Homo sapiens: one gene and its partners. The protein of the gene in region 1 purifies or fractionates together with the protein of each later gene. This does not show direct contact. Each region holds a gene or a part of one and is shown in the gene's direction. Other genes may lie near its edges. The genes, in order: FPR1, INTS1, IPO11, EXOC2, FADS1, TBC1D9B and ERAP1.

Region 1 (3,976 bases):
TGTAGTTCTTGATGATATTTTCCAGATATAACCTAACCTAGTATTACCCTCTTGCAAAATTCTTGTAAAGTAAACCATAAATTTCGTCTTGGTTCTAAGCTAAGCTTGTCCAGCCCATGGCCTAAGATGGCTTTGAATGCAGCCCAACACAAATTCATAAACTTTCTTAAAACATTATCAGATTTTTGGGGGATTTTTTTTTTTTTTTTTTTTTTTAGCTCATCAGGTATCGTTAGTGTTAGTGTATTTTATGTGTGGCCCAAGACAATTCTTCTTCTTCCAGTGTGGCCCAGGGAAGGCAAAAGATTGGACACCCCTTGTTGAAGCCATTGTTAGGTGTAATTGTAAATTATAAATTACTTAGAATTAAAAACAGCCCGGCTCATGCCTGTAATCCCAGCATTTGGGGAGGCTGAGGCAGGAGGATCACTAAACCCAGGGGTCTGAGACATGCCTGGGCAACGTAGCAGGATACTGTCTCTAAAAGAAAAGAAAAAACAGTCTTAATGCAACAATGCCTTGGTAATAATGCTTTTAGAATCAGTGTCGTTATCTCTGATTCTGTAACTGTCTTACCATATTTCTCCATATCACTCTGATACCCTTGGAAGGATGCTTAACATTTCAGAAAAACGGTTATTTCTTTGGGCTAGAAGACTACAAATGAGCTTCCACAAGATCAGAGGATTATGGGGTTAATCTTGGTGGTGTGCATGGGTGTGGACGCGCTGTCCTGCCAACTGTCTCAACTTCCCCCACTCCCTTACCTCTCTCTGTGTTTCTGGTCTCCATCCCTCATGACTTCTTCTCTTCCTTTCATTGCCTCCCTCTGATTCTTCTCACCACAGTGCTTGCTGCTTTCTTTACCTTGACCCTTGGAGGGAGCAGGGGCCCGGACACTTGGATTTCTTGGCCCTTGTTGTTGAGAGCACTGAACCTCTGCATCCCACAGAGACTGAGGCTGAGAAATACAGTCAGGTACATGAGTTTCTAAACAGGCCCAGCCCACTGTCCTAATGCCATTAAAGCAGACAGTATATTGGTGTATTCTTGGGGCCATCAAAAATCAGAAGAAGCTCAGACTTCCTATTTCCTGCTACCCAGCTGGTTTTAGTTCCTTTACCCCTCCTCCTGTTCCTTGGTGTATGTTTTGCTGCAATCATTAGAGCCTGAGTCACTCTCCCCAGGAGACCCAGACCTAGAACTACCCAGAGCAAGACCACAGCTGGTGAACAGTCCAGGTAAGAAACATATTCTGGGGGACTGGGTAGCTTGACATAGACACACTTAATACACTGGTGAACACAATAGACTCTTTGTTTGAAGAAGGATGTGGAGTTGAAGAATAATTTTTTTAAAGAGGTTCTAAACAGGCCGGGCACGGTGACTCATGCTTGTAATCCCAGCACTTTGGGAGGCCAAGGCAGGTGGATAACTTGAGGTCAGGAGTTCGAGACCAGCCTGGCCAACATGTTGAAACCTCACTTCTATTAAAAATACAAAAATTAGCCAGGCGTGGTGGTGGGCGTCTGTAATTCAAGCTACTTGGGAGGCTGAGGCAGGAGAATTGCTTGAATCTGGGAGGTGGAGGTTGCAGTGAGCTCAGATTGCACCACTGTACTCCAGCCTAGGTGACAGAGTGAGACTCCATCTCAAATAAATAAGTAAATAAATAAATAAACAAATAGGCTCTAGACTTTATTGGGGTCCTGATGGGAATGATGGAATATAGAGACACTATGAGGCTGCAGGAGAGAGAAGGGATAAGTGAAGGAGGGAAGTTCTTGAGTAAATGGGGGAATGAGTTTTATGGGACCAGTAGAGGGTAATTCTTGGATGGAAACACTTGTTTTCTGGTTACAGAGATGAGGGCAGAGAACAGTGATGCAGGAGCCAGCAGGAGGAGAATCTGGTGGAGCAAGAGGCAAGGGCATCAGCTTGAGGGCTTGAGTCGGGATGGGAAAGGATGTTTGGTTTGAAGCTTTCAGGAGAAAGCAAAAGAGCCCTAACGACTTTATGATGGGTCATGGGGAAATGAGTGTAATACAGAAGCAGTCACCTTTCGGATCAGTGATGAGTCTCCACGTGAAGACACTGGTTCTGCATGGTGCATAGGACCCAGTAGCGGAATACAGCCCTGCCCTCTCATGAATCTGCAGACATTGGCTGTCATTTCTCATCAAGCTCCTAGTTTCCTCTTCCGTCACACAGGGATGATGATGTATAATCAATGCTGAGTTTGTTGAGATCAGAGGCAAGAAAGTTGAGGATGTGGTACAATGATTATCAAGCATAAAGTCCTTCATCGATGGCAGCCACCAAGGCCTGTGTTCATTGCAAATCACAGGATTTTTCCCTTGAACCATAATTGGACAAAATTGCACAGGTTTTCCTCTCTGGTATGTTCCAGCTCATTATTGCAGAATCCTCATCATTCATTGCAACAATCTTCTGAACTGGTTGCCTTAGAGATTCTTGAGGACAAAGAGTCCTCAGGGTATTTTGGTGGTTGGATGGGTGGTAGGGGAGGGAGACATCTCTGAGTTGTTTCTGAGATTGTAGAGTATCAAAGTTCATTAGAAATGTGAGACACATATGTAATTTCAAAGTGTCAAGTAGGCACTTTAAAAAGGTGAAGAGAAACATGCGAACTTAATTTTAATAAAATATCTAACCTAAACTTAAATAGCCAAATTATTATCATTTTAACATGTAGTCAATATAAAAACTATTAATGAGATGGTCACAATATTTTTTTCATACTAAGTCTTTGAAATCTGATGGGTATTTTACTCCTACAGCCTGTCTCCAGTTGGACTAGCCACAATTCAAGTGCTTGAAAACCACATGTGGTGAGTGACTAGTGCATTAGACAGCTCTTCTGTGCCAGTAGCGTGGCAGGGCAGAGGCAGAAAGAGACTTTTGCTGGAATTCGACAGCCTGGGCTGTTGGGTGACTTTAAGGAATTAACTGAAATGCTCTAAGTCGCACTTTCCTCGTCTGCAAAATGGGTACCATAAAGACAGTGACCCTCATAGTAACAATTTTGAGGAAGGCTGCTGCAAGCATTAGAAGAGAAGACCAGGCCGGGCGCAGTGGCTCACACCTGTAATCCTAGCACTTTGGGAGGCTGAGGCAGGTGGACTGCCTGAGCTCAAGAGTTTGAGACCAGCCTGGGCAACATGGTGAAACCCCATGTCTACTAAAATACAATTAAAAAGAAAAATTAGCCAGGCACGGCGGCGTGCACCTGAAATCCCAGCTACTCAGGAGGCTGAGACAGGAGAATTGCTTGAACCTGGGAGGCGGAGGTTGCAGTGAGCTCAGATCACGCCACTGCACTCCAGCCTGGGTGATAGAGAGAGACTCCATCTCAAAATAAATAAATAAATAAAATAAAATAAATTAAAAAAAAGAGAGAAGGCCAGCTCTCAGCAAGAACCTGACATGCACTTTGCATACCTGATCTAATGAAATGTCATATCCAATACATATTTGGACTATTATTTCTATCACGGTCTTCTACATCCCCAAGAGTGCTGAGCCCATCCAATGGATGGAGAAGCACCTCCCATCCATCTGGCCAAGGTAACCGCAGAGACGAGAGTGGAAACAGAGTCTGTTGTTCTGACTTCTTCTAGCACAGAATCCATTGGATATAATACTTGATTATACGTCGTTTAGTATCACTCACGGATCCATTTGACCTATGTTGGAAAACTAACCAAGTACTATGCCTTGCTTCCCACGATGAGAGAGGAAAGGGAGATTTCATGACCTTAAAGAGAGAGAGCGAGCAGAATTTGGAGTGGAGAAGTTGCATATCTTTTTTTTTTTTTTGAAACGGAGTCTCGCTCTGTCGCCCAGGCTGGAGTGCAATGGCGCAGTCTCTGCTCACTGCAACCTCCGCCTCCCACGTTCAAGTGATTCTCCTGCCTCAGCCTCTGGAGTAGCTGGGACTAAAAGCACCCACCGC
Region 2 (3,500 bases), on another chromosome or scaffold:
GTCCCTGTAGCCCTGGCTGTAGGACCCTTGGATTTCCGTGTCTCCTTTGAAGCGGGCTCGGGAGATGCTCCCATCGCCACCAGCGCATTAGGCCTCCCGGTGGGCTCTATGGAGTGTGAAACACGAGGGAGGCACAGCCGCTCTCAGCTCCGCGTTCAGTCTTCGCGGCCTGGCATTTTGAGACAGGAGTGCGTCCTTTCAGATCCTTTCAGATCTTGGGTGGTGGCCTTTGGTTTCCGTTCAGCCCGTGGCGCACGGGTGGGCTGAGATGGCACACGCGCTTCTATGGCTTTGCCGCCTGGTGTCCCGCACCCCCAGCTTCCGTTAATTAATCCTCCTCATTTCACGAGGACCGACTCCCCACCTGCCGGTTCTCAGAGAGGGGAATCAGATGTGATCCCTGCTCGCCAAGGGCTGGCAGCCAGTAGAGCAAGGAGCCCGCCACCCCGCACCCCACACTGTCTGAGACCCACTGCAGCGCCCTCGGGCGCCATACCTGTTGGTGCTGCGGGAAGGGGCCTGTGACAGGGACAGCACTGTCGGGCAGCCTCCCACGCGGCCTCTCTCTGCCCCAGTTCCTGGCCATGGTGTTCCAGGACCTGCTGACCAACAAGGACGACTACCTGCGGGCCTCGCGGGCCCTGCTGCGGGAGATCATCAAGCAGACCAAGCACGAGATCAACTTCCAGGCCTTCTGCCTGGGGCTCATGCAGGAGCGCAAGGAGCCGCAGTACCTGGAGATGGAGTTCAAGGTGCCAGCCCTCGCCGCTGGGGCGCCTTTCCCTCACTGCGGGTTCCACGCGCCGCCATCCCCCTCGTCCTGGGTCCCATGCACACTCCACCCCTTCGGATGCTCTGGCTGAGCGTGGGTACGGGGATGAGTGAGGCTGTTTGCGGTGACGCGTCCCAGAGGGTAGCATAGGCTCTGTCCTGTGTGAGGACCTATGAGGGGCTGACCAAGCACAGGGGAACTGGCAACCCCTAGGCTGGATGGGATGAATTGCTGCCGGCAGCAAGGGGAGCACGGGAGCAGGGAGGCAGGGTGGGGCTGCGGGCTGCCTGGCTGGGTTGGAGACTTTTCGAGGGCTGTGGAGGGAGCTGGCGCTGGAAGGCACAGTGAGGGTGGATCACAGAGATGCCAGGTCCCTGCAGCCAACTCGCAGCCAGCCTGCCGGGGTGGCCTGTTTTGCGGACGGGGCTTTGTGGATCTCTGTTGACTGAACCTCCCTCCTGTGGCCAGACTAGGACCTTGTGGGCCACCGGCCCTGGTGCCCCTCCTGTCAGGCCCCTCTCCCAACTGGTCCTGGGCTCTCTCTCTGGATCCCTGCTTGTGTGTGTGTATGTGTGCGCATGTGCAAGTGTGTGCGTGCTGCACCCACGTGTTTGTGGAGTGGGGCTCCCGGGTGTCCCTTCTGGATACAGACCCCGTGCCGCGCCCACGTGGGTGTGGAGTGGGGCTCCCGGGTGTCCCTTCTGGATACAGACCCCGTGCCGCGCCCACGTGGGTGTGGAGTGGGGCTCCCGGGTGTCCCTTCTGGATACAGACCCCGTGCCGCGCCCACGTGGGTGTGGAGTGGGGCTCCCGGGTGTCCCTTCTGGATACAGACCCCGTGCTGCACCTGCAGGAGCGCTTCGTGGTGCACATCACCGACGTCCTGGCCGTGTCCATGATGCTGGGCATCACAGCGCAGGTGAAGGAGGCCGGCATCGCCTGGGACAAAGGAGAAAAGAGGAGTAAGGATGTGGGGGTGGCCTGGCCCTGCTTGGTGGGGGTCTCGGGTCCAGGCTGGTGGCTGGCGGCTCTCCGAGGCTGCACTGTCCCCTGAGCGCCCGGCAGGAGCGGTCCCGCAGCACGGCTACTCGGGGACACGGAGCCTGGAAGCTGCCGTCCCCGTTCCTGTCCATCCGGGCCTCACCCCAGCTGCAGGCTCAGACCCTGTTCCCATGAGCGTCCTTTGTGTGCTCCAGTTCTGGCCCAGCATGGGGGCATTGCAGGCGTGGTGGCCCCAGCCACGGGCGGGAGTGGGGAGGGGAGGTGGTGTTTGGGGCAGTCCGGGTGTTTGATTATGGGTTCACAGGAAGGCTGGGCCGCAGAAGCCCTCTAAGCCATTGACCGGAGCGAGTCACTCGGAACAGGAGGATTCCAGTCACCCACGCACGCGTCAGGGTCACTCCATGCCTCCCAGGGTGTTATTCCAGCTGGGAATCGTCCAGAAGCTGGGGGTGCCCTGAGTTACCCCCTCCCAAGTGCCAGCATTGAGTTGGACCCCCAGGGGTGCCTTAGCCCCTCATGGCCCATGGCTCGGATGGGCCACTAAGCTGCGTGTCTGTTTCAGACCTGGAAGTGCTCCGCTCATTCCAGAACCAGATTGCCGCCATCCAGCGGGATGCCGTCTGGTGGCTCCACACTGTGGTCCCCTCCATCAGCAAGCTCGCCCCTAAGGACTACGTGCACTGGTGCGGCTGGGGCCCTGTACAGCCCCTGTCCCACACCCCACTGAGCCGGGACAAGCCGGGGCCCCGCACAACCCCTGCCCCAAACCCCACTGAGCCAGGACAAGCCAGGCCCCGCACAGCCCCTGCCCCACACCCCACTAAGCCGGGACAAGCCAGGCCCCCACACGGGAGTCTGTCCCCTCTCTGCGGACAGCAGCAGCCGTTAGGCTCCAGGCAGGTCACCCTGTGCATTGGAGCCTCCCGTGGAGCCTCTGCCTTGGTTGGGGTGGGGCTGCCAGGCTGGGGCTGCATTTCTCTGCAGCGATTTTGTAAAGGGCTGTCCAGCCCGGCAGCCCCGTTCGGCCGCTGTGCAGCCTGGCAGCCCCGTGAGTGGTCCCTGGGTTCTTTGGTGGTGCTGTGAGGAGGTGCTGAGCTTGGGCACCAGGCAGCCCGGCCTCTGAGCGCTGGGGCCCGTGGGAGCGGGGTCCCTTCCCTGGAACTAACGGGGCTGGTCCCTGAGCACCCACATCATGACTGAGGGCTCTTCTCTGCCTGCCCAGCCTGCACAAGGTGCTGTTCACAGAGCAGCCGGAGACCTACTACAAGTGGGACAACTGGCCACCCGAGAGTGACCGCAAGTGAGTGCGCTGCCGCCTGGGGCTCCTGTGTGCCGGGCTGGGCGGGGCTGCGGGGTGCCGGGCCGGCTGCGGCAGGAAGGGCCAGTGGGAGTTGGGCGGCTGTTCCCATGGTCACAGCACCATCCTGCTCCTCCTCCACAATCCTGGGTGCCACCCTTCTCCCACTCCCATGCTGGCGTCCCAGCGCCACTGTAGGGATTCAGCTGCCGTCTGCGTCCACGTGACTCCAAGCCCCAGCCGCAGCCTCCCCCGGACCCCCGCCTTCCAGTTGCTTCCAGGGCGTCCACGGGCACGCCACCCTTCACGCAGTCTCAGATGCACCGTCTGCCCCTGCTTCTGTCCAGACAGCCGCACACTGTCCTTCCCCAGCCGGCTGGCCTCACAGCTCTGTCCCCCTTCAAGCCCCATGGGTGACCCCGTGGGTTC
Region 3 (3,320 bases), on another chromosome or scaffold:
GCTGCTTAGAAATTCTATTATTAGACACTTATATAAGCTAATACATAAGATGAGATGTCAGTTGTAGAGTGGTTTGTCCTTATACCAAATGGCCACAGAGGGGTATACTTTTCTAATTGCTGAGTCCATTTTTTAGAGTAATCTTCTTAATTTGGAATACTTTTAGGTTTACAGGAAAGTAACAAAAATAGTACAAAGAGTTCCCATGTGCCCCTCACCCAGTTTTTCCTAATGTTAACATTGTATGTTACATTTTTCTTTCCTCTTCTTTTTCTTTTTTTTTTCGAGACGGAGTCTCGCTCTGTCACCCAGGCTGGAGTGCAATGGCACGATCTCAGCTCACTGCAACCTCCGCATCCCAGATTCAGGCGATTCTCCTGCCTCAGCCTCCCAAGTAGCTGGGACTACAGGCGTGCACCACCACGCCAGGCTAATTTTTGTATTTTCAGTAGAGACGGGGTTTCACCATATTGGCCAGGCTGGTCTCGAACTCCTGACCTTGTGATCTGCCTGCCTCAGCCTCCTAAAGTGCTGGGATTACAGGCATGAGCCACCGAGCCTGGCCCTACATTTTCCAAATATACATGGTACATTTATCAAAATTAAGAAACCAACATCGGTGCATTATTATTAAGTAAACTCCAGACTTTTATTTAGATTTTACCAGTTTTTCCGGTAACACTCTTGGTTGCAGGATTCAATCGGGTATATCACACATTGCACTTAGCCTGGGTCCAGGTGTGTTTTATGTATATGTATGTATGTGCATACCACAGGGATAGAAGAAGCCAAAATATTTTCTTTTGTCATTGTTATCTTTAAGGAGTGGACTTCTGGGTTATTTTTCATGAAATTACACTCCTTTTGTTTTCCAAATATCCCAGTGGGAGACGAGGAGTCCCTTTTTTTTTTTTTTCAGCCAGAAGCATATACAGGAATTTAAATAGTATTGCAATCCAGGGTAGGGCAAACACTGTCTCCTTTCTCGATCCTGAGGGCATCACTGGGTTGCCACAGTGGCCTACCCTACCCTATCTTCCTAAGGAGAATGCTGGACAATTGTATTTAAATGTTCTTCAGCATGTTCTGTTTCTTTTAGAATGCTTTCTACTAGGCTTTGATGCTTTAAATGAATGAGTCCCCCAGCTCTTGAGAAATGCCTGATCAGAAAACATGTTCAGGGGGCGCTAGGGAACTGAAGTTAAGACTAATTGAATGAAATTTTCTTTGACAGATTTTTCCACCATGAGATTAGTACAGAATCTGTGTGAGAAGAGAGGCAGAAGCAATTTTGTTACTGTAGAAGAGATTACAAAGAACTTTTGTAAATTGCAGGTAGGAGAGACTTGTTTTGCTTTTTTGACAGTCTTGCTCCTCTCTGTATCCCACAGCTGGCCCTGAAGGACCCTGTTCATACAGTGTCACTGCAGCAGTTCATCTACGAGAAGCTCAAGGCACAGCAGGAGATGCTAGGAGAACAAGGTTTCCAGTCCCTCATGGAAACAGTGGATACGGAGATTGTCACCCAGCTACAGGAGTTTTTGCAAGGATTCTAAGAGCACATGACATGTGGCTGCCTCCCCTTTCAGAAACAAGCTGAGTAACCCAGCCTGCCGTTTGTATGTGAGAGCCTGCTGAGATGAAGAAATCACTTCATGAAAATAAGCAAAGACCACACATTTTTTACTACAAAATGTAAAGGATAAATGTAAATCCTGCATAACTAAAATCACAAACCTATTCCTCAAAAGAATTTAATTTTATATTTATGAGGGGGCCCTTCACTAAAAAGTACATGTAAAAGTACATTTGATGACAATAGCTGCTTAGTTTCCTGTTAAGAGAAGAAACTTTATCTTTTAATTATGTGCTCTTAATATTTGAAGATGAGAGTTAATACCTGAGATGTTTTTCTGCAACCAAAATTCATTAAATTTGGCTGCCTTATCCTTTTTTTAAGCTAATGAAACTACAGGTTTGAAAAATGACAAAGCTGTTCAGATGATGCTATTAAAGAAATGTGTGTACTAAGCAAAAATATATAAATAGTGACAAATACACATTACCAAGCTTATCTTGCAAGGGAGTTATTTTCATCTAACATAGAAAGTGTGTTTTATCAGACAAATGCTTTTATTTTCATTCTAATAATTTGATACAGAAATTAGTAAAGGCATTTTTTTCTTTTTTTTTCCAGTAAATACATTGGGTCTATAAATGTGCATTTGTAAGGGCCACAAAAGTGAACGTGTGGTACTGTAGTACCACGTGGGAGACCTCTGGTTATGGTTTAGTCCTAGTTCCTTTGTTACTCCTGTGAGCACCGAGAAGAACTGGGCGACTCCCAGTCCCACCTGTGCTGTGACAGTCCCACGTGGCTATGACAGACTGTTTAGTACTTACCCTTCTCAGGTTCCTCAGTGCAGGGGTGCATCAGGGCCTCAATAATAGGGGTATACCTGGGAGGATCCAGCAGTAATCCCCAGGGTACTAGGATTACTAGTACTCTGATGGAACTAGTCTTCCTTCCTTATTCCTCGAACATGCAGTACATAAAAAGGGGAAAAGGAGAAAAAAAAAGCCTTACTTTGTTTTACTTGCCATTTATTGTAAGGAAACTTTAAAGCATTTTTTAGGAAATACTCAAAAGCAAGGTTGGAAAATGTTTTATCTTTCTATAGAAAGTTGGGTACAGTATGTAACTGCGGGAAACCCACTGCCCCTTTGTAAGCTGTGGAACCCAAACTGTATGGGGATATTTGATGTTTTCAGAAAGAGGAAGAAAATATGGTCCAAATTAAATTTTCCAAAGATACCTCACCTTGGACTGATTTGTCTGACTACTTTTCTTGCTCCCCCCAAAAAATGAGTTCTTAAAAATTGCCCAGTGACTTATAGAGAATTTTCTTTTATACTCTAGCTTTGATTCTGTGCTAGTAGGTATCAGTATTGCAGGTGGCAAATCCTAGTTACCCTTTTAATTTATCTTCATTTAAAGACAAAAAGCTCCTTTCAAGTGATATTTCTTTATCAGTATTACTCAGTCCTGAAGACTGATCCAAGAAGAATTTCTTTTTGTTGACTTAATTATTTTCATTTGAAACACTAACTCATTAGTGTTATCAGAAATTCTCAAACATGCTCATTTTTCAGTTATAGTAAAGTACTCATCCTTCTAATTCCTGACAGATTTCATTATAGTGCCATACCAAATATTACTGAAATAGCTACCTTGCAAAAGAAGTAAAAAGCTTATCTCAGGGAAAGAGTTTGCTTCATTTTTAAAACTCACAAGTTTAAATAGGCTTGGTAAATAGCTC
Region 4 (3,500 bases), on another chromosome or scaffold:
TAAAAGATATTTCTTGAGAGCTTTCAAGAACCATTTAAAAAACATTTGGTTTTCATTTGTAGTGAAATGTCCTTAGGTAGCTTATGGAACCCAGAAGCAGAAACTCACAGTATTAAATATAAAATCATATATGCATAATGGTTTTTCGGCATTTATCATAAACCAGAAGCTTTCCACTGAGCTAACATTTTACTCGAATGTTTTGTGCTTGGATATTTCCCAGACATTTTCCAAGAGTTTACATGATTTCAGAATATTCTCTTGAATAAACAGATATTATAGGTCATATTATTTCATCTTACTGACTTTCTGAATTTTTTGTGCAGATTTAATCAGCTACATTTAACAATGTTTAATTGTAGTGTTTATTATTTGTAAAATATGTTTGTTATTGCAAAACTTTGTCTAAGCAGCTTAATTTGTCTTCTCTGTTGAGTAATGTACAATGAAACCATAAGCTGAGAGGTGTAATTTTTGCCTTTTTATAAATTTTTTTAGTGCTTATAATTAAACTACTAGTCATTTTTTAAAAATTTAGCTGTTATGTCCTCAAATCTCTTAAAGATTATCCAACAGGCATTTTGTATTAGGTCTTTAAGAAGTCAGACAATAGGCCAGACGTAGAAGGTGCCTGGGGTAGGCTTCATCTTATTAAGCATATGCTCCTCATTTCTGTAGGCATTTTGGATCAGTCTGCTGTGTGGGTTGATGAAATGAATTATTATGATATGCGCACTGACAGGAACAAAGGAATTCCGCCCTTGTCCTTACGTCCTGCTAACCCGCTTGGCATTGAGATTGAAAAGTGAGTACCATCTTGCTTTCAGTCTTCTTTATTTTTCAGTTCCTGAAAAGTTTTATATACTTACAGGAAAGGGACTCAAACTCCAGAAACATCCCAGGAAACACAGTTGAAGACACCTCAGTTGTTTGGAGATGGGTGTTATTTATGAAGCCTTGTTAGCTATGCTGCAAGTAAACTTTGCAGTTAGTTAAAACTTGTGGCTAAAACTACTTTTACCTCTTCAGTTTTTTGATTTTGCATTTTGTGAAAAAGAAAAGTCTTTAGTATGTTGTCTAGAGATGGTTAAGTTTAAATAGGTAGATGGCACCTGAAGTCAAAATAGCATACATAATCTGTTTTTTTGATTTTTCTAGAAGTATTTTAGAATAGCCAGGTCTAATCTGGTCTTTAATTTTGTCTATAATGTCTACTCATTCTTGCTTAATCCAGACTTATTTAACTTTAATCATCAGAATTCTGCCAGGTAAATGATATCTTTCAAGATGCCTTATAACTGAATCTAGAGTTTTTTTCTGAATTCCTAGTACAGTGTTTTAGTAACTTTTATAATTAGTGCCTTTCTACTTAAACAATTCACCTAATGTGTTAATCGCAGCTAATTTATCTTCTGGCCTTAGTGCTTCTGCTTATGGAATTGTATACTGAGTATTGCTCTGTAAACTCTTACCAAAAGTGACAAATTAGCACTGTTAATACTTTAACCATGGTTTTAGTTTAGGGTTTTCTAGGAATGGGGAAAATTCTCCAATAATCTCTCTATATATAATCTTCAAGCCTACTCTTGAAGATCATTAGTTTCATTTTCACCTGCTGGGGTTTGCCCCTGGCTGAGGGGAAGTAGCATGTTTGTCTTGGGAAAGTAGCACGTGTTGAAAAAGTCTGGGGCTTAGCAGCTTCACGTGAGCTTTGACTGTTCTAGGTAACATCTTTGAAACATTTTTGCAGTATGGGTCATTCTAGAGCCGTTTAAGGATTCCAGTGCCTCCAAAATTAAGAGTTCAAAGATTGAGAAGGTTTAGAAAATAATGGTAACAGTTGGGTATTTATTTGAGCACAGTTTTAAGCATGAATAGACTTGCAGTTGATAGTAAGCCCCTTATGGGTGCTTCAAGGCTCTGGAAAGCCAGTCTCTTTCCAACCTGCCTGAGAAGTGTGGAGCAGGAGGCCCTCTGAGCTGCTCTTCATAACCAAGAGCCAGTTTTATACATGGGCAAAAGGAATATGGAGATATACAAAATATATTTAGTATGAGACTTGGACAAAATTATCAGTTAGGGTTCATTCAGACGTTTACTATCATAAACGTGATTTCTTCAACTTCTGTTTTGGTGTTTACCCCCACCCCTGTTCTCTCTACCTCCCCACACCTTCTCAGCCTTTGAATCTCTTTATTATTCCTGTTGCTGCTGCCCACAGTGTGGTTTGGCCTGAACTGCGTCTAACAGCAGTGTTCCTAATAAGTGTCAGGTTAATTATTTGATGAGATTGGTAATGGCAGTGAAGAATAATGGCACTGAAAGTACTTAGCTTTCTTAAAATGTTCTTTTCTTCTCTGAGAGGTAGTTTGATTTTGTGTGGGGCAAAACTCTCTCAATTTGAACTTGGGCTGTGCCACTTACTAGCAATATGACATTGAGTAAGTTACTTAGATTCCTTTTGCCTCAGTTTCCTCAGGTGTACAATGCAGTACCTGTTCCTTAGGGTCGATGCGAGGAATCAGGAAGTGAGGAGGTAAACAACTTGGAGCATAGCAAGTGCCTCACAAGTGTTCATCCTTACAGGATTCTTTGCTCTTCTTGGATATATACTATTCATTGTTCTGCCACATAGGAAAAGTTTTTGTTTAATGACTTAAGATTCCAGGGTACTAAAGTGTTTTAAAATTTTAAAATAACATTATGTACATTTATCCAATAAGTACTTCAGTGGGAATAAAATTAACAGATTTTGATGTTACTGTACAGATTGTTACTTAAGTTTCAGAAATATTTGCTCAGCCATGGGATAAAGTAAAATATTAAAGGATAATTTTTGAAAAAGGGAAAATCATGATTCTTATACAAATATAAAATAAATAGATGTCAGAGCTTTTATTTAACTCATAATTAAGGAAAGAACCAATAAGATGTTAAATCCAGCCCAAAGGAAAGTCCAGAGGGGAGACATACGCAATGAGAAATGCCGAAAGATGCAAGACCGTCACTCCGTCTCGGAGGAGCCAGTGGTATCCTCACCTGATGTGCATTTCTGTGGACAGGAATCCCTGGCATCGCCATTAGCCCTCCACAAGCCAGCTCTGTCTTTCTAATAGAGACTCAGAATAGCCAATGATCAGAGAAAGGCGCGGATCCTGTAGCATCAGGGAACACGGGGAGGGCCCTTTAGGCCGTGAACAGACATCCAGTCATCCTTCTGTCCGTCTGAAAGTGTTTGGCAAAAGACTTTCAAAAGAAAGAGAGGCTAGATGTAGAGATTCCAGGAAGCAAGAAAATGAAAGATGAAAGTAAGAATAGGTGTAGAAACCAAGAGAAGATAATGCTTTTGGCCAGAAAAATGCTTTTCCAGGCTTCTTTTTTTTTTTTTTTTTTTTTGGATACTGTCAAGAAAGCTGTGTTTATCTTACTGAATTCTTTGACCTCTGTTAGATAAATCTTGTTTTAGAGAAAGATAAAAGGAAGGAAAGGCAGACTGTAGA
Region 5 (3,500 bases), on another chromosome or scaffold:
GTGAGGGGGAGCAGCCTTTTTTTTTTTTTTTTTTTTTGAGACGGAGTCTCCCTGTCGCCCAGGCTGGAGTGCAGTGGCGCGATCTCGGCTCACTGCAGGCTCCGCCCTCCCCCGGGGTTCACGCCATTCTCCTGCCTCAGCCTCCCGAGTAGCTGGGACTACAGGCGCCCGCTACCTCGCCCGGCTAATTTTTTGTATTTTTAGTAGAGACGGGGTTTCACTGTGTTAGCCAGGATGGTCTCGATCTCCTGACCTCGTGATCCACCCGCCTTGGCCTCCCAAAGTGCTGGGATTACAGGCGTGAGCCACCGCGCCCGGCCGGGAGCAGCTTTTATTCCCTTATTTGTCCCTGCCCATGTCCTGCTGATTTGTCCATTTTATAGAGCACTGATTGGTCCATTTTACAGGGTGCTGATTGGTCCATTTTACCTCTAGCTAGCTAAAGAGCACGGATTGGTGCATTTTACAAACCTCTAGCTACAGAAAAGTTCTCCAAGTCTGCACTCGACCCAGGAAGTCCATCTGGCTTCACCTCTCACTTCAACTTGGGTACAGCCTTCTGGCGGGCAGGAGGATGGCCTTTGGTGCGAACACTGCCGGAGTCCAGGGGGCTGGCTCCCTCACCTTTCATCTTCTCCCGGCACTTGCAGGATCCCTTTGTGGCCTTCCACATCAACAAGGGCCTTGTGAAGAAGTATATGAACTCTCTCCTGATTGGAGAACTGTCTCCAGAGCAGCCCAGCTTTGAGCCCACCAAGAATGTAAGACCCTGTGTTTGCTATGTCGCAACTATTGGTTGTTGAGGGGGACAGAGAGGGGGTGGAAGGAGAGTCTAGATGGGATCACAGTCATAGTAATCACAGTCAGTAGTAGCTCTGGGGAGTCTTGAGGTCCCTGCTTCTCTTGCATAGTCATGAGGTCACAGGCCCAAGGGAGCATGGCTTTGCAACCTATGGCTCCCCCAAGGCTGCCACTACCATGGCTGCCATCATTGTTATCATCATTGTTATCATATGAGCACTTACTATGCACCAAGCATAAACTCATAACTCTTACACATTTACAGATGAGATAACAGGCTCAGGGAGGTTAAGCAACACAGCCAAGGATCACACAGTTAGTAAATGGCAGAGCAAGGACTTAGTCCCCTGAACTCTTAGGCACTATCCCATGGCACCTCCTCCTGTCATCCTCATTGTCGTGGTATCTTTGCCTAGGACTGTGGACTTCCCACAGCTACCTCAGTGGGAGGTCCTTGAGCCTGAGAGGGCCCTTGTCTCCAGTAGCATTGGGGTGCAGATGAGAAGAATAACAGCTCCTCTTCCTCTTCTGCAGAAAGAGCTGACAGATGAGTTCCGGGAGCTGCGGGCCACAGTGGAGCGGATGGGGCTCATGAAGGCCAACCATGTCTTCTTCCTGCTGTACCTGCTGCACATCTTGCTGCTGGATGGTGCAGCCTGGCTCACCCTTTGGGTCTTTGGGACGTCCTTTTTGCCCTTCCTCCTCTGTGCGGTGCTGCTCAGTGCAGTTCAGGTGAGAGCCTTTGGCTTGTCAAGTGCACAGCAATGCTCAGCATCCCTGGGGAAAGCTCCTTGGGTGTTTGAGGAAGGCCAAGAGTGCCTGCCCTCCAAGCAGGGCAGATCTGAAGGTATGCAGGAGTGAGTGCAGGAACATGCATTCTGCTGTCTTGACCTGTCTGCTCTTTAGCCACATGGACATCTTCATTTCTCTCACTGCCTTTTTAGCTGCTTCTCCAAGGGTTCTCTTCTTCCTATGCGGTTTGTTCTCTGCCACAGCCCACCTGTGCCAGGAGCCAAGTTTCTGGTTTCTTAGCAAAGCTTGGCTCCCTCCCCACCACTGACATTGCCCAATATGTTAATAATGATTGAGCGCTAATTCTTGACTGTCAGGACCCATTTGGCAAGCCTTCTGCTCATGTTTCAGTCCTTTCTGTATTCTAGATGTCAGTCCATCATAAGTCATGAGCTTCAGGCCAGGTGTGGTGACTCATGTCTGTAATCCTAGCACTTTGGGAGGCCAAGGTGGCCGGATCACTTGATCTCAGTTCAAGACCAGCCTGGCCAACGTGGTGAAACCTCTACTAAAAATACAAAAAGGCCAGGCACAGTGGCTCACGCCTGTAATACCAGTACCTTGGGAGGCCAAGATGGGCAGATCATTTGAGGTGAGGAGTTCAAGACCACCTGGCCAACATGGTGAAACCCCGTCTCTATTAAAATACAACAGTTAGCTGGGAGTGGTGGTGGGTGCCTGTAATCCCAGCTACATGGGAGGCTGAGGCAGGAGAATTGCTTGAACCTGGGAAGCGAAGGTTGCAGTGAGCCGAGTTGGCACCATTGCACTCCAGCCTGGGCAACAGAGCGACACTCTCAAAACAGGCCAGGTATGGTGGCTCACGCCTGTTATCCCAGCAGTTTGGGAGGCCAAGGTGGGCAGATCACCTGAGGTCAGGAGTTCGAGACCAGCCTGGCTAACATGGTGAAACCTCGACTCTTACTAAAAATACAAAAAAATCAGCCAGGCTTGGTGGCGGGCACCTGTAATCCCAGCTACTTGGGAGGCTGAGGCAGGAGAATTACTTGAACCCAGGAGGCGGAGGTTGCAGTGATCTGAAACCGCACCATTGCACTCCAGCCTGGGCAACAAGAACAAAACTGTCTCAAAAAAAAAAAGTCATGAGCTTCGGAGCTGGCGAAACAGAAGAACAGAGAAGGGATGGTGATTTGCCCCAACTCACGTGTGAGTCAGTGGCAGAGGCAGAACTAGGACCCATGTTTCCTGACTCCTGAGGTGCATCACAGGCCTTGGCAGATGAAGGAAGTGGGAGAGGCTGAAGGAGGCATCGAGGTCAGTGAAGGCGACACTGGGGCTGGTGGGCTGCTCTCAGTGTTGACTCTTCTCACCTAGGCCCAGGCTGGCTGGCTGCAGCATGACTTTGGGCACCTGTCGGTCTTCAGCACCTCAAAGTGGAACCATCTGCTACATCATTTTGTGATTGGCCACCTGAAGGTCAGTGGGATGGGGAGGAGCTCTCTAAAACTCCAGGCAATGAAGGGCTGCCTTGGGGGAAGCTTTTCATACTCGTGTCCCTGCTTTTCTGTAGGGGGCCCCCGCCAGTTGGTGGAACCACATGCACTTCCAGCACCATGCCAAGCCCAACTGCTTCCGCAAAGACCCAGACATCAACATGCATCCCTTCTTCTTTGCCTTGGGGAAGATCCTCTCTGTGGAGGTGCGTGGAGGTATCAGTGGAAAGGTCTTGGGGAATAGGAGGCAGCCAACATAGGGGAGTTGGGGAAGATGCCCACGATGTTGTCAGTGTGGGCAAGACACTGGGGCTGGGCTGGCTGGGGCTTTTGCCATTTTGGAAGTTCTGGAAGGCAACAGGCAATAGATGGGGGCTGCCCAGGAGGGAGTCACCATCCTCCCTAGAGAGTTCAGTCAGCAAACCGTTACTGCATAAAAGGCACCTCATTTTG
Region 6 (3,500 bases), on another chromosome or scaffold:
GGTCTCACTGTGTGGCCCAGGCTGGTCTTGAACTCCTGGGCTCAAGTGATCCGACCTCCTCAGCCTCCTAAAGTGCTAGGATTACAAAGTGTGAGCTACTGTGGCCTGGCCTATTTTTAATTTTTTGAGGAACTCCATACTTCCTCCCCAGCAGCTGCACCATTTTATATTCCCACCAGCAGTTCACAAGGGTTCCGATTTCTCCACATCCTCATCAACACTTGCTATATTCTGTTGTTGTTAGAGTGATGGGCATGAGGGTATCTAATTGTACTTTAGGTTAGCATTTCTCGCAGCTTTTGATTTTAAATCTAGGCATTTTCCTGGCCAAGTCATATGGCTTTCTGTTTGCCTTAAAGGTCTTGTTAGCAGCTAGGGCTGTGTGTGGTCCTAGTTGTGCACCGAGTGGGTGGCCTTGGTGTGGGGCTCTGGCCTTGTGGCTCACCTCCACATCAGCTTGGTCATAATCCCACCTCCAACACCCAACACCACTCCGCAGAAGTGTGATGTGTTGATGTTCACCTTCTCTGGTTTCCCAGTGCCTTCTGACCCAGTTTGAAGGAGTTGGCAGACTCTCTGTTCCATCAGTTTCCTACAAATTGCCTTTTGACATTTCCCAGAGTTGGGTAGGGGCAGTTTCTCATTACCGGATGCCCAGCCCTCCTGAAGAGGCAGATTTGCTTGTAGGAGGAGGCCATTAATCTTCACCACGAGAACCTGAAAAATAATAAAAATAACAACAACAAAAAGAAGATCATGTGGGCCCTTGCAGGGAGGGGTGGCTGGGAGGGGTGGGGAGAGACAGTTTTATTTGCTGGCCAGCAGTGCAAGCCTTCCCCGGCTGTCTCTGTGCCCGGCAGGCAATGAACATCGTGACCTCGGTGCTCCTGCTCTATGGCAGTGAGGAGGAGGCCTTCTGGCTCCTGGTGGCCCTGTGCGAGCGCATGCTGCCCGACTACTACAACACCAGGGTGGTGGGTGAGTGTCCCCGGGTGCTGCCTCGCCTGGGTCTCCAGGTGCCTGCTGGTTCCATGAGGGTGGCAGCCCTTCCCAGGCCAAGCTCCAGGCTTCACGTGGGTTCCCTAGGAGTTAGAGGGTAGTATTACACATTCGGTGGTTTATAAAAGTCCCCTCAGAGCCTAAATTCCTATCCATCTAACTTCCTGTCAACTTTTTGATTATGGAAAATTTCAAACATCAAAACTAGAGAGTATATATCCCCCATGTAACCTGATGCTCAACTTTACTGAACTCATATCCAGTGAAATCTGTTATGAAGTGGAAATGGACTTGCAAGAGTGTTTAATTAGGTTCATATTTAAGCATGTTATCCTGTCCTTCCCCTGCTGTCTGGTGTTTGGAGTTACCGCTCTTGGGGTCCTTCAGAGCTGCGTCTATTCACAATCATCAGGATGGGACAGAGTCATTGAGGGTGCTGTTTACCTCTCATGCCTTACGGAGAAATCAGTATTTCCCCAAAATAAAATTCAAGTGTAGTAGAAGAAATAGTTATTTCGCCCAGTGGTTTGGGAGCTGTAGAGAGACTTGAAGGGTTTTTTCGTCCTTGTTTTCTCCCAGCACTCCAAGTCTCCCTCAGCCCTCACTGCACAGCTGGCAGGGCTGGAGTGGCCAGGGCTCGTACGCTGCAGGTGAGGGCCCACCCAGGCCACAGGGTGGGCTCACCATCAGCCTCGCTCATCCTGCCCGCAGGAGCCCTGGTGGACCAAGGCATCTTCGAAGAGCTCACGAGAGACTTCCTGCCGCAGCTCTCGGAGAAGATGCAGGACCTGGGGGTGATCTCCAGCATCTCGCTGTCCTGGTTCCTGACCCTCTTCCTCAGCGTCATGCCCTTCGAGAGCGCCGTGGTCATCGTCGACTGCTTTTTCTATGAGGGCATCAAGGTGATCCTGCAGGTGGCCCTGGCCGTCCTGGACGCCAACATGGAGCAGCTGCTGGGCTGCAGCGACGAGGGCGAGGCCATGACCATGCTGGGCAGGTGACATGCCGGGTTCCTTCTCCTGCTGGGGGCTCACAGCAGAACCCCTCACCAGCCCCGGGCACTGTCCAGTCAGCCTGAAGTGACTGTGCCCACCAAGTGCCAGGCTGCAGCTGGACCCGGGGGTGCTCTGGGGTCAGGAGGCGGCTCCTTTCTAGTGGGAGATGAAGCAGCGCTCAGTGATAGGTGCCAGGAGGAGTAAAGCAGGCACTGCGGGCAGAGCATGCTGGCTGGAGGGCCACCGCTCAGATGTAGGGTTGGAGATGCTTCCCCTGAGGGCAAACCAGAGCCAAGATCCAGTGACCACAATTCCAGTTGGTGGCACAGCTGGGCATTTCATGTCCACCAGGTGGTCCCGGTCATACCTCTCCAAGCTCAGCTGCATTGCAGCCCCCATGCCCTGGAGGGAGCAGGCCTGCCCTGGGCCCGCTGGAACAGCTGGATGAGCTGATGTCCCACTAGTCACGCCAAATGTCCAGGGTCATCCCAGCCCCTCCACCCCCTCCTTAGTCCCCACATCCCATCTCTTGCAGATTCTGTCTGGGATCCAGCCCCTTCCCTTCAGCCTGCTGCCTCAGCCCAGGCCCACCATGCCCTTTCCCTGGGGTTCCCCTCTCAGTCTTTGACCTGCCTGCATCCCATGACTCTGATCAGACCTGGCCCTGCCCCTTCCCTGGGTCCTCTGTACAAAGGCACTGTCTGAGCCTCCAGCCTGGCCTTCAAGCCCCGGCCCCTCCTGGCTACACTCTGCCCTGCCCTGAGCTCTGTGCAGTCCCACCCTCCTACATAGCGTATTTGTCCGGACTGGAATGCCCCCAGCCCCCAGGAACAGCCTGGGACTCTGCCACTTGCCCATGGCCAGGCCAGGTGCTGCCTGGGACTCTCTAGATCCAGCAGGGTTGTCACCTCCCTACTGTGGGCCTAAGTAGCTTTTGGTCCACACTGATGTTAAGATACTCAGCCTGTGGCCGGAGTCTGTGGCTGGTTTTCCTGCCGCTTCCTACAATAGGCGGATAGGGCCTCCTCCAGAGCAGGGGTCTGACTGGGGATATGACCAGGGCTATGGGCATGGGGAGTCAGCTACCTCCTCCCACCTGAGTGTCAGGCTCAGCCCAGGGACCCAGAGAGGCCATGAACTCTGGCGGGGCTAGGTCAGCTGACAGAGGTAGGGCTCCATCCCCAGGACTGTGTCCCTAGAGAAGCTGATTCCCTGGGCTGCAGCAGGCCTCCCCACACCTGACTTTCTCCTGCGACTCAACCTTTGATCCCTGAATCTTCTTGGCCAGGGCGAGAAGGTCCCACATCCCCAGGGCCCCGCCAAAGGGAGGAAGCTCGTCATCCTTCCAACTGGGTAGGATCTGGGGTTATAAGGCGTTCCTGCCCAAGGGACCCCCCCACTGACTAAGAAAACAGCCCAGCGTCCTCAGGGTTAGTGCTCAGGCCTTGTCGGGGGCACTGCCCTGTAGAGGGCTCCCCAACTTGCTGGGGGCGCTGCCAGGGCACA
Region 7 (3,500 bases), on another chromosome or scaffold:
TAAAGACAGAGTCTTGCTCTGTTGCCAGGCTGGAGTGCAGTGGTGCAATCTCAGCTCACTGCAACTCTGCCTCCCAGGTTCAAGCGATTCTCCTGCCTCAGCCTCCCAAGTAATTAGGACTACAGGTGCGCACCACCACACCCAGCTAATTTTTGTATTTTTAGTAGAGACGGGATTTCGCCATGTTGGCCAGGATGGTCTCAATCTGTTGACCTTGTGATCTGCCCACCTCATCCTCCCAAAGTGCTGGGATTACAGGCGTGAGCCACCATGCCTGGCCTGAAATTCACATTGCTTTTATGTCTTTAAAATCAATCCAGGTGATTGATACGTTTGCCACAAACTACTGGGAAAATTAAGCTCTTTAAGCTCTTCCTGGCTAAATAAATAGGTAATTAACTTTTGGCATGACAATTTGAGGAAGACACTGATGTTATTAAAGGTTACCATTACATATACTTACAGGGGAAGTGGAGACCTCGTTCTAGTGGTGGCTGCCACTGTGTCAGCATTTGATTTCCAGGGTACTAGGGTGACTTTCTCCAAGGTCCAGTGTCAGTGGGGAGTGGTGCTTGATCAGATGTTCCTCTGATATGGTTCTGGTTTTGCTTCTTTCATGAGCCTGGTTTCCCAAATGTCCTGCAACTCTGTGACCCGTGTAGTGAGCCACTCAGGATCCCCTAATGATTCCTTTTCTGCCTATATCAGCCAGAGCTTGTTCGGTTGCTTTCAACCAAGAACCCTGACAGGTAGAGTTAATTTAAACTTTGAACATCAAATGATGCTTTCTAGTACGTGTTAATGATTGTTGCTAACTGTAAACATCTTTCTTATATGAAACCATAACATAGGGAAGGTCCTTTTACTTTCAGGAAAAGACCTAGTACTTTTGGAAGTTTATGCCTATTTCTGTGAATGCTGGGTGGATACATTCTGAAATTATGCTGTGTCAATAACATTTTAATGACATATATTTTTGCTTTTGTACATTTGTGCCGCTAGGTAGGTAGAGCAAGAAGATGGTGTTTCTGCCCCTCAAATGGTCCCTTGCAACCATGTCATTTCTACTTTCCTCACTGTTGGCTCTCTTAACTGTGTCCACTCCTTCATGGTGTCAGAGCACTGAAGCATCTCCAAAACGTAGTGATGGGACACCATTTCCTTGGAATAAAATACGACTTCCTGAGTACGTCATCCCAGTTCATTATGATCTCTTGATCCATGCAAACCTTACCACGCTGACCTTCTGGGGAACCACGAAAGTAGAAATCACAGCCAGTCAGCCCACCAGCACCATCATCCTGCATAGTCACCACCTGCAGATATCTAGGGCCACCCTCAGGAAGGGAGCTGGAGAGAGGCTATCGGAAGAACCCCTGCAGGTCCTGGAACACCCCCGTCAGGAGCAAATTGCACTGCTGGCTCCCGAGCCCCTCCTTGTCGGGCTCCCGTACACAGTTGTCATTCACTATGCTGGCAATCTTTCGGAGACTTTCCACGGATTTTACAAAAGCACCTACAGAACCAAGGAAGGGGAACTGAGGTATTTTTTTTTCTCTTTTTCTTTTAAACTGCAAGTGCTGCCCACGCTAAATTCATTATTTCAGATTGATTGTCTTTTAAAATTCCCTTTGCTGTTGAACTTTTTCTTCAGTTTTGCTTTTGCATCTTCTTTATAGTGTTAAAAATGGCTTTTTCCCTTGCTTTTTAAATCTCATTTTAAAATTCTATTTTAACCAATTTTCTTTCCCCCAGCTCTATCAGAGTAAATATCTATTTGTTTATTTGGTTCGATTTCTGAGACATAATAAACATGTTTAATTTTCCTGAACTGTGTATTAGTTTCCTAGGGCTGTTGTAACAAAGTACCACAGACTGGGTAGCTATAAACAACAAAATGTATTCTCTCTCAGGTCTGGAGGCTAGAAGTCTGAAATCAAGGTGTCAGCAGGCCCGTGCTCCCTCCAGACTCTGGGTAGAATCCTTCCTTATATCTTCCTAGCATCTAGTGGTGGCCGTGGATCCCTGGTACTCCATGCCTAGCACCTGCGTCATTCTAGTTTCTCCCTCTGTTAGTCGCATGGCCATTCTATTTTCCTATGTCCCAGTCTCCATCTTCTTATAAGGAAACCAGACATACCAGATTAGGGCCCAGCCTGGTGGCCTCTTCTTCACTCCATGATACTTGTAAAGACCCTATGTCCAAATAAGGTCACATGCACAGATACTACAGGTTAGGACTTCAGCAAATCCTACTAGCAACATATTAGAGGAAATACTTTTATCTCAGTTAAAACTTTTTTAGAGATCTCTTCTCACCTTGCTTTGGTTCTGTTTTTAAGGAGGAGACTTATTTGGGGGAGATTTTATGCTCAGTTTTAAAATGGAATTTTATTTGTTGGTAGATTATACTAATTTATTTTTCAAATTCCATATTATTTTATCAAGGTAAGAAAGTAAAATTTATTTCACTCATAGCCCCCTGAACTGACCACTACTTCTATTTCACTGGAATATTCTGCCAGACTTCTTTCTGGATATGCATATATATTATTTTATATAAATAGAATTCTTATATTTTCTCTTTTACAAGGAAATTTTTTAACTTAATATGTTGGGAAGATGTTTTATATAAATGACTATTACTAGACATCTTTTTAATGATTTTATTAAAATACATAGTTGTACATTAATATCTTTAATCCCTCGGGAATGGAAATGAAATTGTTTCCAATTTTTCAGTATCAACAACACTTTGATGAGCATTTTTGTAAATTATTTCTTTAGAATAAATGCCTAGAAGTAAAATTGGTAAGCCAAAGAGCCTATAAATTTTTGATAAACTTTGTCATTTTTTCTTACCCCTCACCAATAGTGTATATTGGCAGTCTTTTTAGAGCAAAAAAGGTCCCCAAATAAATGATCTCTTTTTAATTTACGTAACTTTGATTAAGGAAGTTGAGCAGCTTTTGATATGTTTGTTAATGATTTATAGGTTCTTCTTTTATGAATTGCCTGTTAATGACCTTTGACTTTGCCTGAGATTCCCTTGGTTGTTGGGGATTTTTTTTTTTTTTTTTTTTTTTTTTTTGTCGAGACGGAGTCTTGCTCTGTCACCCAGGCTGGAGTGCAGTGGCGCGAACTCGGCTCACCGCAACCTCCGCCTCCCGGGTTCAAGCAATTCTCCTGCCTCAGCCTCCTGAGTAGCTGGGATTACAGACGCGCACCACCACACCCAGCTAATTTTTGTATTTTTAGTAGAGATGGGGTTTCACCATGTTGGCCAGGGTGGTCTCGAACTCCTGTCCTCGTGATCCGCCCGCCTAGGCCTCTCAAAGTGCCAAGATTACAGGTATGAGCCATTTTTAGGATTACATATTTTTAGGATCTCACTATCTGTTAAGGCTATTAAGTTTTCCTCACATACTTCTTAAATGAATTTTCCCTGTTTTTTACTTTTTCTTTTTAACTTTTTTTTTTTTCTTCCCGAGACAGGGTCT

Evidence for each region.
Region 2: the proteins of FPR1 (region 1) and INTS1 purify together in Homo sapiens (co-immunoprecipitation; 2 studies listed by BioGRID and IntAct, with this or other methods). This does not show direct contact.
Region 3: the proteins of FPR1 (region 1) and IPO11 purify together in Homo sapiens (co-immunoprecipitation; 2 studies listed by BioGRID and IntAct, with this or other methods). This does not show direct contact.
Region 4: the proteins of FPR1 (region 1) and EXOC2 purify together in Homo sapiens (co-immunoprecipitation; 2 studies listed by BioGRID and IntAct, with this or other methods). This does not show direct contact.
Region 5: the proteins of FPR1 (region 1) and FADS1 purify together in Homo sapiens (co-immunoprecipitation; 2 studies listed by BioGRID and IntAct, with this or other methods). This does not show direct contact.
Region 6: the proteins of FPR1 (region 1) and TBC1D9B purify together in Homo sapiens (co-immunoprecipitation; 2 studies listed by BioGRID and IntAct, with this or other methods). This does not show direct contact.
Region 7: the proteins of FPR1 (region 1) and ERAP1 purify together in Homo sapiens (co-immunoprecipitation; 2 studies listed by BioGRID and IntAct, with this or other methods). This does not show direct contact.

Annotation. Positions count from the first base shown.
Region 1 is NC_000019.10:51,749,079-51,753,054, reverse strand, and holds the start of FPR1 (fMet-Leu-Phe receptor), read left to right. Parts: upstream 1-1,176; 5' UTR 1,177-1,241; intron 1,242-2,801; exon of another isoform or gene 2,802-2,852; intron 2,853-3,976. UniProt on the Homo sapiens protein: High affinity receptor for N-formyl-methionyl peptides (fMLP), which are powerful neutrophil chemotactic factors. Binding of fMLP to the receptor stimulates intracellular calcium mobilization and superoxide anion release.
Region 2 is NC_000007.14:1,494,390-1,497,889, reverse strand, and holds part of INTS1 (integrator complex subunit 1), read left to right. Parts: intron 1-575; coding exon 576-752; intron 753-1,625; coding exon 1,626-1,734; intron 1,735-2,336; coding exon 2,337-2,457; intron 2,458-2,996; coding exon 2,997-3,074; intron 3,075-3,500. UniProt on the Homo sapiens protein: Component of the integrator complex, a multiprotein complex that terminates RNA polymerase II (Pol II) transcription in the promoter-proximal region of genes.
Region 3 is NC_000005.10:62,625,763-62,629,082, forward strand, and holds the end of IPO11 (importin-11), read left to right. Parts: intron 1-1,391; coding exon 1,392-1,556; 3' UTR 1,557-2,820; downstream 2,821-3,320. UniProt on the Homo sapiens protein: Functions in nuclear protein import as nuclear transport receptor. Serves as receptor for nuclear localization signals (NLS) in cargo substrates.
Region 4 is NC_000006.12:627,140-630,639, reverse strand, and holds part of EXOC2 (exocyst complex component 2), read left to right. Parts: intron 1-678; coding exon 679-805; intron 806-3,500. UniProt on the Homo sapiens protein: Component of the exocyst complex involved in the docking of exocytic vesicles with fusion sites on the plasma membrane.
Region 5 is NC_000011.10:61,810,504-61,814,003, reverse strand, and holds part of FADS1 (acyl-CoA (8-3)-desaturase), read left to right. Parts: intron 1-435; exon of another isoform or gene 436-650; coding exon 651-761; intron 762-1,335; coding exon 1,336-1,533; intron 1,534-2,928; coding exon 2,929-3,030; intron 3,031-3,124; coding exon 3,125-3,253; intron 3,254-3,500.
Region 6 is NC_000005.10:179,873,398-179,876,897, reverse strand, and holds part of TBC1D9B (TBC1 domain family member 9B), read left to right. Parts: intron 1-860; coding exon 861-978; intron 979-1,710; coding exon 1,711-1,996; intron 1,997-3,500. UniProt on the Homo sapiens protein: May act as a GTPase-activating protein for Rab family protein(s).
Region 7 is NC_000005.10:96,801,446-96,804,945, reverse strand, and holds part of ERAP1 (endoplasmic reticulum aminopeptidase 1 isoform b precursor), read left to right. Parts: intron 1-1,002; 5' UTR 1,003-1,019; coding exon 1,020-1,543; intron 1,544-3,500. UniProt on the Homo sapiens protein: Aminopeptidase that plays a central role in peptide trimming, a step required for the generation of most HLA class I-binding peptides.